3 separate regions of the Homo sapiens genome follow, and all the other regions are reported to be linked to region 3. The links are microRNA targets in miRTarBase. Many come from high-throughput screens and were not tested one by one. Region 3 holds a microRNA gene; each other region holds the end of a gene's coding sequence.
The links. The annotated mature microRNA hsa-miR-3679-3p reads CUUCCCCCCAGUAAUCUUCAUC and lies in region 3 at 2,278-2,299, opposite strand. An mRNA with a match to its seed (bases 2 to 7 or 8) in the 3' UTR can be bound and repressed. Matches are read on the target gene's strand: a 7mer-m8 pairs with bases 2 to 8, a 7mer-A1 pairs with bases 2 to 7 and ends in A, and an 8mer does both.

Region 1 (4,221 bases), not on the chromosome of region 3:
AACATTGCCTGACCATACAGCCTGCCTGCATCTGCCCGCAAAGGAGCCCTGGGTCCACGGCCAGTTCATAGAGACCCGCCCGCTTCCCAGCCTCCCCACCGAGGAGGAGCTTCCTGAGTCTGCCTGAAGGACCCCAGTGCTGCGACAGGACACAGTCTCCATGGAGACATGAAGTCCTCTGGGATGCCTGCACCAAGGCAAACTAGCTGGCCGAGGAGCACCATTCAGCTGTGAGAGCGGCCACAGGGGGCTCAGCACAGCCTTGGTCCGTAGCACCCAGTGGAGGGCAGGAACCACACAAGCCAGCCTAGCAAAGCTCCGTCTCCACAGTGCTCCATGCTCACCGGCAGCTTCTCCTGTCCAGTGCTGGCTGCCAAGGGACATTCTGGCCTCAGCAGACATGGGCCACCTGGGGCTCTCAGAGCTTGTTTAACAGGAGAGGGCAGCACCTTAAAACTCTCAGGAGCTACTGACAGTGTGTTTAACATGTTTAAAAAGAGAGCAATTGGGTTTGCTTTTCCTCTTCATTAACTTCATCCCTCCCCCGGGGCAGGCTCTAACAGGCCACTTCCTTTCTTTCTGTATCTACTGATCAGTCAGATGACAACACAGGGGCCACCAGGGCTACCACGCACTGCCTGAAGCACAGGATACATCTTTGAAGTGTGGTTCTGGACATCTACTATCTTTCAAGAGCAGATATCCCATCCGAGTATTTTCCAATCCAGGGCAAATGCCTCCAGGTCCCAGAGGAGTACACTAGACTCTCAATCTTTTCTGTTTTTATAATGATGATGATTTTTGAGACAGGGTCTTGTTCTGTGATCTAGGCTGGAGTGCAGTGGCACCATCATACCTTACTGTAACCTCAAACTCCTGGGCTCAAACAATCCTCAAGGCACGTGCCACCAAGCCTGGTTAGTTTTTTTCACATTTTTGGGTAGAGATCAGGTCTCGCTATGTTGCTCAAGCTGCTGTGAAACTCCTGGCTTCAAGCAATCCTCCTGCCTTGGCCTCCCAAAGCAGGGGGATTATGCCCGCCAATCTTTTCCGCTTTTAAATACCACGAAGCAAGTCATTAAAACAACTCCCATTCTGGAAGCTCTTAATTTTTTAAAATTTCCAAATACCACGTATATCAACCTCCAAATTGTTAGCAGAAATAGAAGCACTCTGGCTCTGGAGGCTGAGGCAGGAGGATGGCTTAAGCCCAGGAGGCAGGGGCTGCAGTGAGCTATGATTGTGTCACTGCACTCCAGCCTTGGTGACAGAGGGAGACCCTGTCTCTTGAAATTTTTTTTTTTTTTAAGGGAGAAGCAATCCTATATACCACAGGTTGGGAAACTGGGGCCTTTGGGGCAAATCTGGCCCACCGTGCATTTTTATAAATAAAGTTTTACTGGCACACAGCCCTGACCACTCGTTGTGTATTGACTATGGCTGGTTTTACAATACAACAGCAGAGCTTAGTGGCTGTGACACAGCCTGCAGCCCACAAGGCCTAAATATCTAGCCCTTTACAGAAAACACTGGTTGACCCCTGTACACTAGAAGTGGCTTCACACTGTCTACAGTTTCCCTCGGGATGGACCCACAATGAAAGCGTGAAACGGCTCAACCCGAGGGACGCAGCCAGGACAGATAAGGAAGGTAAAGGAACATGTGGAGGGATGTGGAGGATGCCCCCGCCCGCCCCCCACCTGTGGGAGGAGACAGATGGACAGGGCACAGGGGACAGAGAGGGCCCAACTCACCTGTGGCCTGGCAGAAGAGGTAGAAGTTCCCCAGGGCGTGCACGTGCTGTGCCTGGTCACTCAGGAAGGGCGGCAGCAAGGAGACCCTCGAGCTGCTGTCGGGCCCCGCACCCGAGGCTGGCCAGGGGGTCCAGGGAGAGGAAAGCCTCCTGTCCCCCACATGGCCCAGACAGGACAGGGAAGAGGAGCCAGGAGGAGGGAGGGGCTTAGGAGACGAGGCTGTGAGACAGAGAGGACAGAAAAGAGAGGGCACTGAGGAAGAAGTCGCCAGGAGCACGTCACAGGCCAGAGAGGGCAAAACACAGCAGGAAACGGACAGAAAAGAGCGAGCCCAGCTGTCCCGCCTGGGCCATGCAGGGGCGGGAGGCTGCACAGCCTCCGCTAAGGAATGTCTTCCCCAAATCAAGGATAGAAGCTTCTCATTTATTTGGGTACTTTCCAAATGTATACAATTCAAAGTAGAAAAATAAAAACAAGGTAAATCTTATAAAACACAAATGTTTACACCAAAATGGTCAAATCCTATCATGCTGGAAGATAAGACTGTCCACACACGCGCACAAACATCCAGAGTTTATTGCTCTTCACCATGGAAAAAAAGTCTCTTCCCGATGGGTATTTACAAAGCGGGGAGATGGAGTGTGAAATTAACCAGTGTTGAAATCGTACCACCCATTCACATCTTCAGGACAGTGGCAGGAACAGCGCCGTATGCTTGAGGGTGCTGTGGTCACAGCTCGCGGCCCCGGCCACCGAGGCCCAGTTCCCTTCCAGTAGTGGGCAGCTCAGTGAGGCTGGATAGAAAGTCTGGGCAGGCAGTGGGTAAGCAATTGAAGCAAGAAGAGAAAGGAGATGTTCAGAGAACCAAAGGCGCCCTTGTGAAGGTTCCATCTGTCTCACAGGAGGTTCTGACCGACAGCTGTGGGCTCCAGATTGTACCGCACTCCCATCTCAGCTCTGGGCCAGCCTGGCTCCACTCAGCTCATCCAGGCTACCTTCCCTTGCTCAAAACCCACCTCGTGGATGTGGGAAGGTCCTCTTCTTCGAGAGAGTAAAAGTTAAAAAAAAAGAAAAGTAAAACGAAGTACAGAAAGAAAATCTCTCCAAAAACAATGCTTCCCTCAAGGAATAAAGTTAAAAAAAAAAAAAGAAAAAGAAAAAAGGTGAGTGGGCTCCGGGGAGTGTTTATGTCTACATTTCTAAAAGCAGAAAGAATGCATTTAGCAAAAGGAAGTTTATCCCTGAGAATCTTAAGCAACGTAAGCCGTATTTTATGCCAAATATATAACAAAATCTGGAAGATATACATCTTCTTCTAAATATTAACACAACTGCTTCTGTAACTAAAAAAAAATGACCCATGACATAAACACAATCAAAGCAAAATCCTAAAAAAATAATTAAGTGGAAGAAAAGGTTCGTGCCAATCTGGACAACAGGCGATAAGTTACCAATCTGATAAACTAAAATGTCATTTCCAATCTGGAATTAAATAATCTTTTAGTGGCTGCTACGGGGAGGGGAAGCTGAAGGGATGCTCTTCTCAGCCAACAGAGGTCCAGCCACCTTTCCCCCACTACAGAAAGGGCTCAGGAACTCCGTGCCGCCCGTGGGCCTTCTTCAAGTACTCCGACTGACTTCGGAACACAAGACTGGGATGCAATGCTTGTCATTTTTCCAAAAGGACAAAGAGAAACCAAGTCACAGGCTCAACCCAAGAGAAAATAGACAAGAGGACTGAGGTTGTCTGCACGATGCGGGCTAACCTACGCAGCACTGCACGAGACTCGGATACTGAACAGGAGAAACACAAAACTCTCCACGCCTGGACACGTCGCAGCCGAGGCACCAGCGGGGATGCACAGCCGGCCTCAGTCTCCATCTGCGTCTGAGTCAGCGAACTTCAGCTCACACTTGACGTCAAAGGGCTTGTCCCTGGCAGAAAGGTCGTCGATCCTCTGTGAGTCCTCCCTATCCGTGGGGACTTTGCTGGTGATGGTGTCTTGCTCGGTCTCATAGCCGGTGTCCAGGGCTGGCTTGGGGTGCTCCCCATTCTGCTGGGAGAAGCTCCCTGGCTCTACTAACGTCTCCTTCAGGCTCTGCTCACGGTCACAGAAATCTGACTTGGGCTTCTTCTTCCCAATTAGTAGGGCCGAGCGGAATTTCAAGCACTGTCTGGGCAGGTATCCCTTATAGCAGTTGTAGAAAAAGAGGCAGAGGAAGAGAACAAAGAAGAAGAGGAAGAGGGACATGAGGAGGCGGTTGTCGCTGGACTTAAGATACATGGTTTTCTCCGAGTGGAGCTGGGGGACCGTGTTGATGACGATCTTTGGTTCGCAGGATGTGCCGGTGGGCGCAGGCTTGGGAGGAAGGGTGATGGCCCCGGAGGAGGTGGCCTGCACGGCTGGGGTTGGGGGAGAAGACCCTTGGGTGGATGCCACCAACACTTTGGTGGCAATCCTACTAC
Region 2 (4,221 bases), not on the chromosome of region 3:
GGCGTCTTCTCTATTTCCAGTTTTATTCTGTACCAAGTGCACAATCCCTTCATTTTACTTTTGACATAAAAAAAGGACTTCATGAACAAGACAAAATAACTTATGATTATATGAAACATAACTGTGACAAATCACAAAACTATACATATTAATAGAAAAAAGTGTACCTAATTCTTTAAAAGATTTATGACAATAAGCACCAGATGTGCCTCTAGAGTAAAATCGGCCCCATATCCAGTATGATATATGCAGTTCATTTCTCTACGTGAGTGTATATAACTATGTACAAGAGTCTGTGTGATTTATGGAAAACAGATTTCCACTTTTTTCCCCCAAAGTGCTTTATGTCAGCAACATTACACAGGATACTTTGCTGTCTGTACAAAATAAATCTCTTTTTACACTCACTATTTCTCCAATGAGTGCTTTTTTTTTTTTGCTTCATCTGTTGCAAAAAAAAAAAAAAATAATAACCGCAGAAATTCCACACCACTAACAAAAAGTGCTATTTAAAAATGCTTCCATAAAATGACATGGCCAAGACAGTCAAATAAAATACCAAATAATTAAATTGAAAATGTACAGTTACTATTCCCAATACTTCAAGGCAACTGGAAAGTCAAGGTTCTCAGATGAGGGAGTTGAATTTATCCTTGCTCAAAATTGGTTTTAGGGGCTACTGTGCTTGACGGCTGGTAATTTAGAAACAACTGAACAAAGCCAACACTCTTATCAGTGGTAACTCTGCTGTGATCTACTAAAGACCTTTTTTTTTCTTCTTATTTTATGATCGCTTATGTAATTTGAGGGCGACATGGGTAATGGGAGATACCCCACAGGACCTGTAAATATTTAAATAATATTTAACAGCTGATCAGAGGCTAAATTACAACTGACATTTTGATGCAGTTTCGTTAGGGAATTAAGACAATGCAGCCAATGAAATGTCTCTAGGCAGACTGATTTTTTTTTTAATGCAATAGGATAATTGTCTTTGCGCTGTGTGTTTTCACAAGCACTAGTTTTGTGTTTTGTTTCTGTTTTTAAGGGGAATGACAATCTCTGTTTGGACATTTATGAAAATGGTTACATATCAAGACTTAAAAAGACCAGGACATGAAAGGGAATGATTTTTTTGAAGTTTCCACTTGTACTGCTGCAAAAATAATGATGAATATATATATAAATCTTCTGCAGTGTGAAAGTAAGCAAGGGACAAATTTTAAGGTCAGGAAAGACTCTCGAATCTAAGCATAGTGTGTGTAGTCTGGAAGGCATCTGAACGTGTCCTATCCTGAGGCTGCAATCTCAAGCCTGCAGCTATCAGGAAAGACCCACGGTGCGGGAAGCAGGGCTGCACTGGGTCCTGTGGCCAGCATGCTCTCTCTGAGATAAAATGTCCCTCTGGGGCTCCACATTGATTTCCTGCTGAGGAAGGAGGGCTGCAGGTGCCTCTATTGCTTACGCCCTCTTTAGAGTCCCTCTTGCCCCTGTGAGGTAAGAAAGGGGCAGGGTTACTGTGAGAGGCCACAGGAAGACTGGAGCCTGGTTCACAAGCAGCTCCTCTCAAAGAGGGAGGTGATGTCCATGGTTTCTAAAGTTGAGCTTCTGTCTTGTCCTCCTTCCCCCTTTCTATTTTAAATTACATAAAGCCAAAAGGCAGGGCTGACAATGTCAACTGCAATAACAACCTTGCCTTTTCATCTTTTTTCTCATTGTACAAATGAAATGAAATGTATTTTGAGTTCCTTGTAAAGGCTTCCATATTTAAGTATGAATAGATGGTTTCTCTGAAGATAGCAGAGTTTTTTTCTTTCCAGAGTATGACAAAGGACGCATGAGGGATGCTACTAGCTGTGAGCATGCATATGTTAGGCCACTTGTTTAGGCCAAGTGACACGACCCACAAAGTCTGCAGGAAGGGTGGTACTTTACAAGCAGCCTTGGAGTTCACTTGTAAAGGAAGCCTGGTGTGCATCTTTTGTAAAGCAGAGCAGGTTTTTTAAAGTGGCTAACTCATCTCTTTTGCAGACTTTGACGTCTACGTGAAAGCTTTTCTTAGAATACAGCCCACTACTCAGAGAAACTAGATTGACCAAGTGCACTGTGAAAACAAAACCCACACTTGGTTCTTCATTCACCTCATTCTACTGCATGTTGGAATGAACTCTGGAATCAGGTAGAATACTTCCGCTTGTGGGACTGTGGAGGGAGACTGGAAGGACCTGTCAGTATACAAACTGTCACAGAATCCCATCTAACATCAAGCTGTTTTAGTTGTCTTGTTGAAGATTGTAATGATCTCAGTTTGATAAATGGCATTGTTTCACTTTTGTTCAGAAAAACATTTTTAAAAAGTGAGAAAAAATACTTGAAATATGATAGTACCAGAATGTTAGAACTTACTGTGTCTTTGGGACTGGCCAATTTTTATAGCTGATGCCCTAGGACTTAGGATCTGTAATAGCTATGTAGAGGTGTCACAGAAAATGACTTCCTATTTAGGCTTGATATTTTCGACCAAGTGCTATGTGAAAATTCCAGGCCTTCAAACTGGAACTCAGAAAAAGAATTGCCTCTTTCTGTAGACTTTTCGAGAACTGTCACCTCTACCTTCCCAAGATGATCAGACAATGGCGGCTGGTGGGGATATATGAACCACAGTCAGGAAGAGGGTAAGAGGGATGCAAAAAGAGGGTGGAGAGAAGTGTAGGGAAGAGACAGACAGATGAGTGGATATCCTGAAAAACGTTAGTAAAATCTGAGCACTGGAAGTCAAGTATCACTAGGTTTGGTTTTCCAAGGGAAGCTGGCACATGACTCAGTCTGTCCCAGTTCTCACATCTGGCACTTCTCTGGGTGCAGCACCAGAGTGGAGGCAATGGGTAAACCAGTCAAACAACATTTTTCTTTGAACACAGTCTTTGAGGTGGAGTTACTAAACAGTCAACTCAGGAAGGTTCCAGCTACAGGACTGTTGGTGCGGGAGGTGCCCACTCCATTTCCCTCAGGTAACCTTTGCTAACTGCAAAACTAACATGCTAGAGGTGGGGCCAGGCAGAACCACAGCTGTGCAAAATGTCTATAGCTGGGGTGATTACAATAATAATGATTTCCATCCAAAGCACAGACCTTTACATTTTTTTTTCATTTTAAAATACGTATAAATAACTAAGTCTTTAAAATGCAAAAACAAGGATAGGCTGCTGGCATATAAAACCTTATTTTTCTATTGAAGAGAAACACTGAGAAGCAACTGGTTAGCATGTGGCTAAGAGAAAAGGGAAACCCAGGGAGTTTCTAAGAGTTGAGACCACACTATGCTTTGGACATGGATTTCCCTTGTTGTGCCTGGCTTTGCATCAGGAGCAGCAAGGGTGAGGATTAGGTGAGGCAGGTCACTATGCCTCTCGTAATTGAGGTCTTTTTCCCTGTTTGGAGTTTTCAGGTAGAGTCATCCCCAAACTACATTTTCATATGCACATCATTTCACTGGGGTCCTTTAAGGGTTGACAGCCAGGAAGTAACAGGTATCCAGGAGAGTGAGGCTCTAAATTCCCTTTGAAAAGACAGTCCTCCTGGTCACATAGTCCAGGAAAACCAGAGAGAAAAAGGAGCAACTGTAATGATTCCTGCAAAGCTAGCTCTGCCATTCAGTCCTGCCTTCTGAAAGAACATCAGTAACTCTGCAGGGCCCGCTGATTGGGCTGACATCCTTCCTCAAGCAGTCTGTGAGAGTACGAAAACAAAAGGTGGCAAGCAACATCAAGGTCCTGGGTGTGCAGGAGTGGCCAAGAGAGCTTTTAGCCTTCGGTGTAGACAGAGGAGAGCTGGCTAGGACAGCGGTCCACGGTGCTGATCTGCAAGAAGGTAGCATCTTCAGCCCCGCTGCGGAGAGACTCCCCAAAGAGGCTCGAGGAACTTGAAGGTAAATCATACACTGGAAGAGAAAGAACGCAGTTAAGTCAGTAACTCCTGCCCCATGCCACGCCCACTGGAAATGCACTACAGTAATGCAGCTCACCAAGTGAGGACTGGGGGCTAAGGAGGCAACCATGCCAGCCTGGGCCCTATAGTGAGTCTCTGTTTCCAGCGACCTTAGTGAGGGAAGAGGCTGACTTGCAGGCAGCTGGCTAAAATATGACCACACAAAAGACAGGCTGAGAAGAAGTAAAAGAAAAGTGTTCTAGGGAAGGCTGGGGGTGGCCTCAAAAAGGAGCT
Region 3 (4,221 bases):
GGCCCCCAAAGATGTTCATCATATACTAATCCCCGGAACCTGTGCTTATGTTGCCTTACAGGGAGATGGCATTATATCAAGTACCTGTAGATGGGAGATTACGCTGCATTAACCTGCTTGGTCTAATCTAATCACATCAATCCTGAAAAGCAGAGAACTTTTCCCAGCTTGGTGAGAGTATCAGTGTGATGGCAGAGAGACAAGGACTCAGCTGGACATTGCTGGCATTGAAACTGGAGAAGGGGGCATGAGCCTAGGAACACGGGCAGCCTCTAGAAGCTAGAAAAGGCAAGGAGACCGATTCTCCCTTCAAGCCTCCAGAAAGGAATAGACACCTTGATCTCGGCCAGTGAGACCCATAAGGGACCTCTGACCTACAGAATTCAAAGAGAATAAATGTGTGTGGCTTTAGCTGCTAAGTTTGTGGCTGTTACAGCAGCAATAGAAGTAATCTTGTAGTATTTCTATTAGAGACTGACAGTGAGGAAATAGAACAGTCACACTTGAAACCACTGAACTAGGAGGAAGAAACTCGGAAACTTAAAGAGTATTAACCAGACATGGCATCAAAAAATGGAAAGCTGTCCAGACACGGTGGCTCACAACTGTGAGCACTAAGAGAGACTAAGGCATTTTGAGAGACTAAGGCAGTAGGATCGCTTGAGGCCAGGACTTCGAGACCAGCTTGAGCAACATAGTAAGACTCGTGTCTCTCCAAAAACTAAAATTTTTTTTAAAAATTTAGCCAGGCGTGGTGACACATGCCTGTAGCCCTAGCTACTCAAGAAGCTGAGGCAAGAGAATCACTTCAGCCCAGGAGTTGGAGGTTACAGTGAGCTATGATTGCACCACTGCACTCTAGCCTGGGTGACAGAGAAAGACCCTGTCTCTAAAAAAAAAAGAACTAATAAAACTTGAAAGTTGTATTTGATTCTGCTTACAGAAATAGAGAAAAGGCACTATCATAGAATAAGCAACTCATTATCATGAAAAACACTTTACAGGAAGAACAATAAAATCTTAATACACAGTATTACCAAGGATCCCCTACCTATACTACTTAACAAGCTGGTACTAGGGGAAAGGCCATAGTAACAAAATCCTTTCACAGAAACTTTCTGCAGACTTCCTTTAACTGATGGCTACTCCAAACCTGCAGCTCTCTGATCACTCCCTCTTTCTTCTTTCTCTCTCTCTCTTTCTTTTCTTTTTCTTTTCTTTCATTCTCTCCTTCTCTTTCTCTCTTTTTTTTTTTTCTTTGTAGAGGCAGGAGTCTTGCTTTGTTGCTCAGGCTGGTCTCAAACTCCTGGGCTCAAGCAATCCTTCCATCTCAGCCTCTGAGAGTGCTGGGATTACAGGCATGAGCCACTGCACCCAGCCTCCACTTTTTCTTAAGATAACATTGACAATAAGGTAATAAGCCCTAGTGGTGTGTGGACACACACACTCACATTCAGAGTCCCAATTTGTTGACCTGCATGAGACCATAAACTGTGCTAAGAGGAAAAAAAAAATGTCCACAGACTGATTTTAAAAGATGAACTCTGAAAGAGCATAATGACCAAACGGAACCTCAAAATCAGGAACACACCTAGGAATCTTTTTAAGGATAGACTAAAGAAACTAAAGTAGCTGAGTGTGCAGAACCCAGCCACGCAGGCACACTAGTAGAACCCTCCAAGTGTGGGAGGGGCTAAGTGATGCACCACTTTTCAGATGAGAAATCAGAATCACTAACCACAGAATCGGCCCACATGAAGACAGCCAGCTAAGTGCAGAAGCCTCACCTGCCACGGTCGGAGTTCACTCACGATGCCATGCTGCCTGGACAGCTCATCTCGTGACTCCAGCACGCCAGGCCTGGAGCTTCCAGCCTGTACCCATGAGAGCTCCATGACACTCCTTTCTTTATTGGACCTACATGTTTCTTTTTTTGTTTTGGGGGGGTTGGAACAAGCCTGGGGGGGGGGGAAACCTTTTCCTTGAAGGAGCTCACTGGACATAAGAATTGCAAAGGAGGAATGGTGAACCTCTAAAAGTTGATCGTATTTACCCAGGAGAATTACATTTGTGTGTAATGTACAGTGAAGACTGCCCAATAACAATGTCATCTTTAAACCCACCAAGCATAATAGCTAAAAATCAAATAAAGGAAGAATGTTAACATTCTTAGTCACAGAGACTAGAACTTTTTTACAGAGGGAAGGCAATCAAGATGAACAGAGGGGCTTGAAGCTGTGTTTGCAAAGGTCTTACACAGGACTGGGGACACCGCATGATGAAGATTACTGGGGGGAAGGGAATAGAGGGAAACTCCCCTTCCCTGCCATATCCTCACCACGTGGGGCCTCTAACTAGGTGCTCTAAAAAATTACAGGAAAGGGGACGAAGGAAGTATACCAAACAAATACTAAGAAAGGTGCCAAAGGAAAACAGAGAAATCACACAGAGCATGAGGCAGAGATGGTACTTTCTCTTTGCATCCAAGAAAGAATCGGTCATTCAGAAAACTCCTCACCGGCATGGATGCTTGTAAATAACAAACTGGAGGTGAAAATAAGATGGTTTAAAAAAAAAAAAAGCAGCTGCAAGAAGACTGATACCAAACTTCCTTATGTTGAAAGGTAGTAGTTACACACTGAATGTGTAGACAGAATTTGGCCCTGCTTGTGGCAGTGTGTAAACACCTAGCCACGTCCCCAGGGCACTGTGCGAGGAACCACAGAAGGCTATGAGCCTGGTCATCTTCTCTACTCTTTGAATCTCAATTTCCCAAGGGAAAAAATAGCTTCACTAAAGGAAAGCAGGTTATTTCAGGGCTGAAAGTAAGGACCAAGGTTTTTTATTTCTAAACATACAAAGATAAACATCCCCAAAGAGAGTAACAATAAAGGGCTGATTCTTCTTAGTTAAGCTTTTCGGCTGCCTGCTAAAGAGAGTCTACTGGCCAGGGCAAAAACAACCTGAATGTGTTCTCAACCTTCTTTTTAATTTAATAAGGGAATTTCATTTAATTTATGTTACAAGCCTTTTGCCACATGTATAGAATTAAGCAACATTAGGAACTGAACGGATCTTTGGAGCGCATTCAATCCCCTCTTACTTCTCAACCTAACAGCTGAGGCCCAAAGTGGTCACATGGGCTGAATTAGTATGTTCATCTACATTTCCCTTTATCACTGAACTTAACTCTTCTGGGTGTGCATTGACCAGGCTTAGACTTTAAACTCCTTGGGTAGCCAGTGACTATTTATTTGGCAGAAGCATTCCGAATCAGGAACAGGTGAGGGCAGGAAAGGAAACGGGTGCTCACTGCTATGTCCAATGGGAAGATTCCACAAAGTATGGCGATCTTGGGTTCAGAAAAGCATTTTGTGTGGCCTCTGCTCTCTTTCTAGGACTCCGCAGACACTGCGGGAATGTCTTCACAGGCACCGATTATCAGAAATGTTAAGGAATGGTCCTGATACCTCTTCCAGGTCACTCCTCACCTACCCCATGCTCCTAAAGAAAGGAAATCAATGCTGAGAGGAGCCAGGAGCCCTAAAACACAGAGAATTAATAAGAGTGAAATGTAAAATCCAGCCCAGACTGGATTCTTATCATGTCAAACTTAAAAGGTGACATGAGAAAGGGAACCCCTCATTCCAAAGGATATACGTCACTTAGATTCTCCCAGCTGGGGATGGTAGGAGGGAACTGGGCCACACCAACCTGCTCCCTACCACATTCCAAGGTGAAGCTGGGTGTGAGCACACAGTGGGCTCCAGTGAGGAACAGATGCCCAGTGGCCATCAATTCTCTTCCTGTATCATTGCTATAAACAAAGCAGGCAGGCACCCGTTATCAACTGTTACCAATTGTTCCTGTGGGACCACAGAGGAGATGTGAGGTCCAGCTTTGCCACTGCTGCCTGCTGGTGAGACTTTGAGAAAGTCCCTCCACCTCTCTGCACCTCGGTGACCTCAGCTAGAAAGAGGAGGGCCCTCCCTGCAGTGCCCCTGGGTATCTATGAAGCCCTCTCGGCTTAGGTTGGAAAGAAGGTGCTGGCTAGTACAGGGCATACTCACCAGCCTTAACCACTACTCACAGCCCAACCCACACTGGCTCTGGATCTAGACCACCTGGCTTCAAATCCTTGCTCTGCCACTGAGTAGCTGTTTGTAACCTTAGCTAGATTTCCTGACCTCATGATGTTATGGTCTCTCCATGTATAAACTT

Region 1: the mRNA of SEMA4D is a reported target of hsa-miR-3679-3p. Seed matches in the 3' UTR shown: 8mer at 3,322-3,329.
Region 2: the mRNA of GLIS3 is a reported target of hsa-miR-3679-3p. Seed matches in the 3' UTR shown: 7mer-m8 at 1,623-1,629 and 8mer at 327-334.

The regions. Positions count from the first base shown.
Region 1 is chr9:89,375,079-89,379,299 of GRCh38, forward strand. SEMA4D (semaphorin 4D) reads right to left here. Exons shown (of 16, transcript NM_001371194.2): 16 at 2,157-4,221. The coding sequence ends at 3,626. Among named protein-coding and RNA genes, the nearest start is that of SECISBP2, 59 kb to the left of the region's middle. RefSeq lists a silencer at 318-377 and an enhancer at 848-957.
Region 2 is chr9:3,824,469-3,828,689 of GRCh38, forward strand. It overlaps GLIS3 (GLIS family zinc finger 3), which reads right to left. Exons shown (of 11, transcript NM_001042413.2): 11 at 1-3,940. The coding sequence ends at 3,804. Among named protein-coding and RNA genes, the nearest start is that of GLIS3-AS1, 72 kb to the right of the region's middle.
Region 3 is chr2:134,125,246-134,129,466 of GRCh38, reverse strand. MIR3679 (microRNA 3679) reads right to left here and starts at 2,342; the gene lies at 2,275-2,342. It also overlaps a transcript of MGAT5 not described here.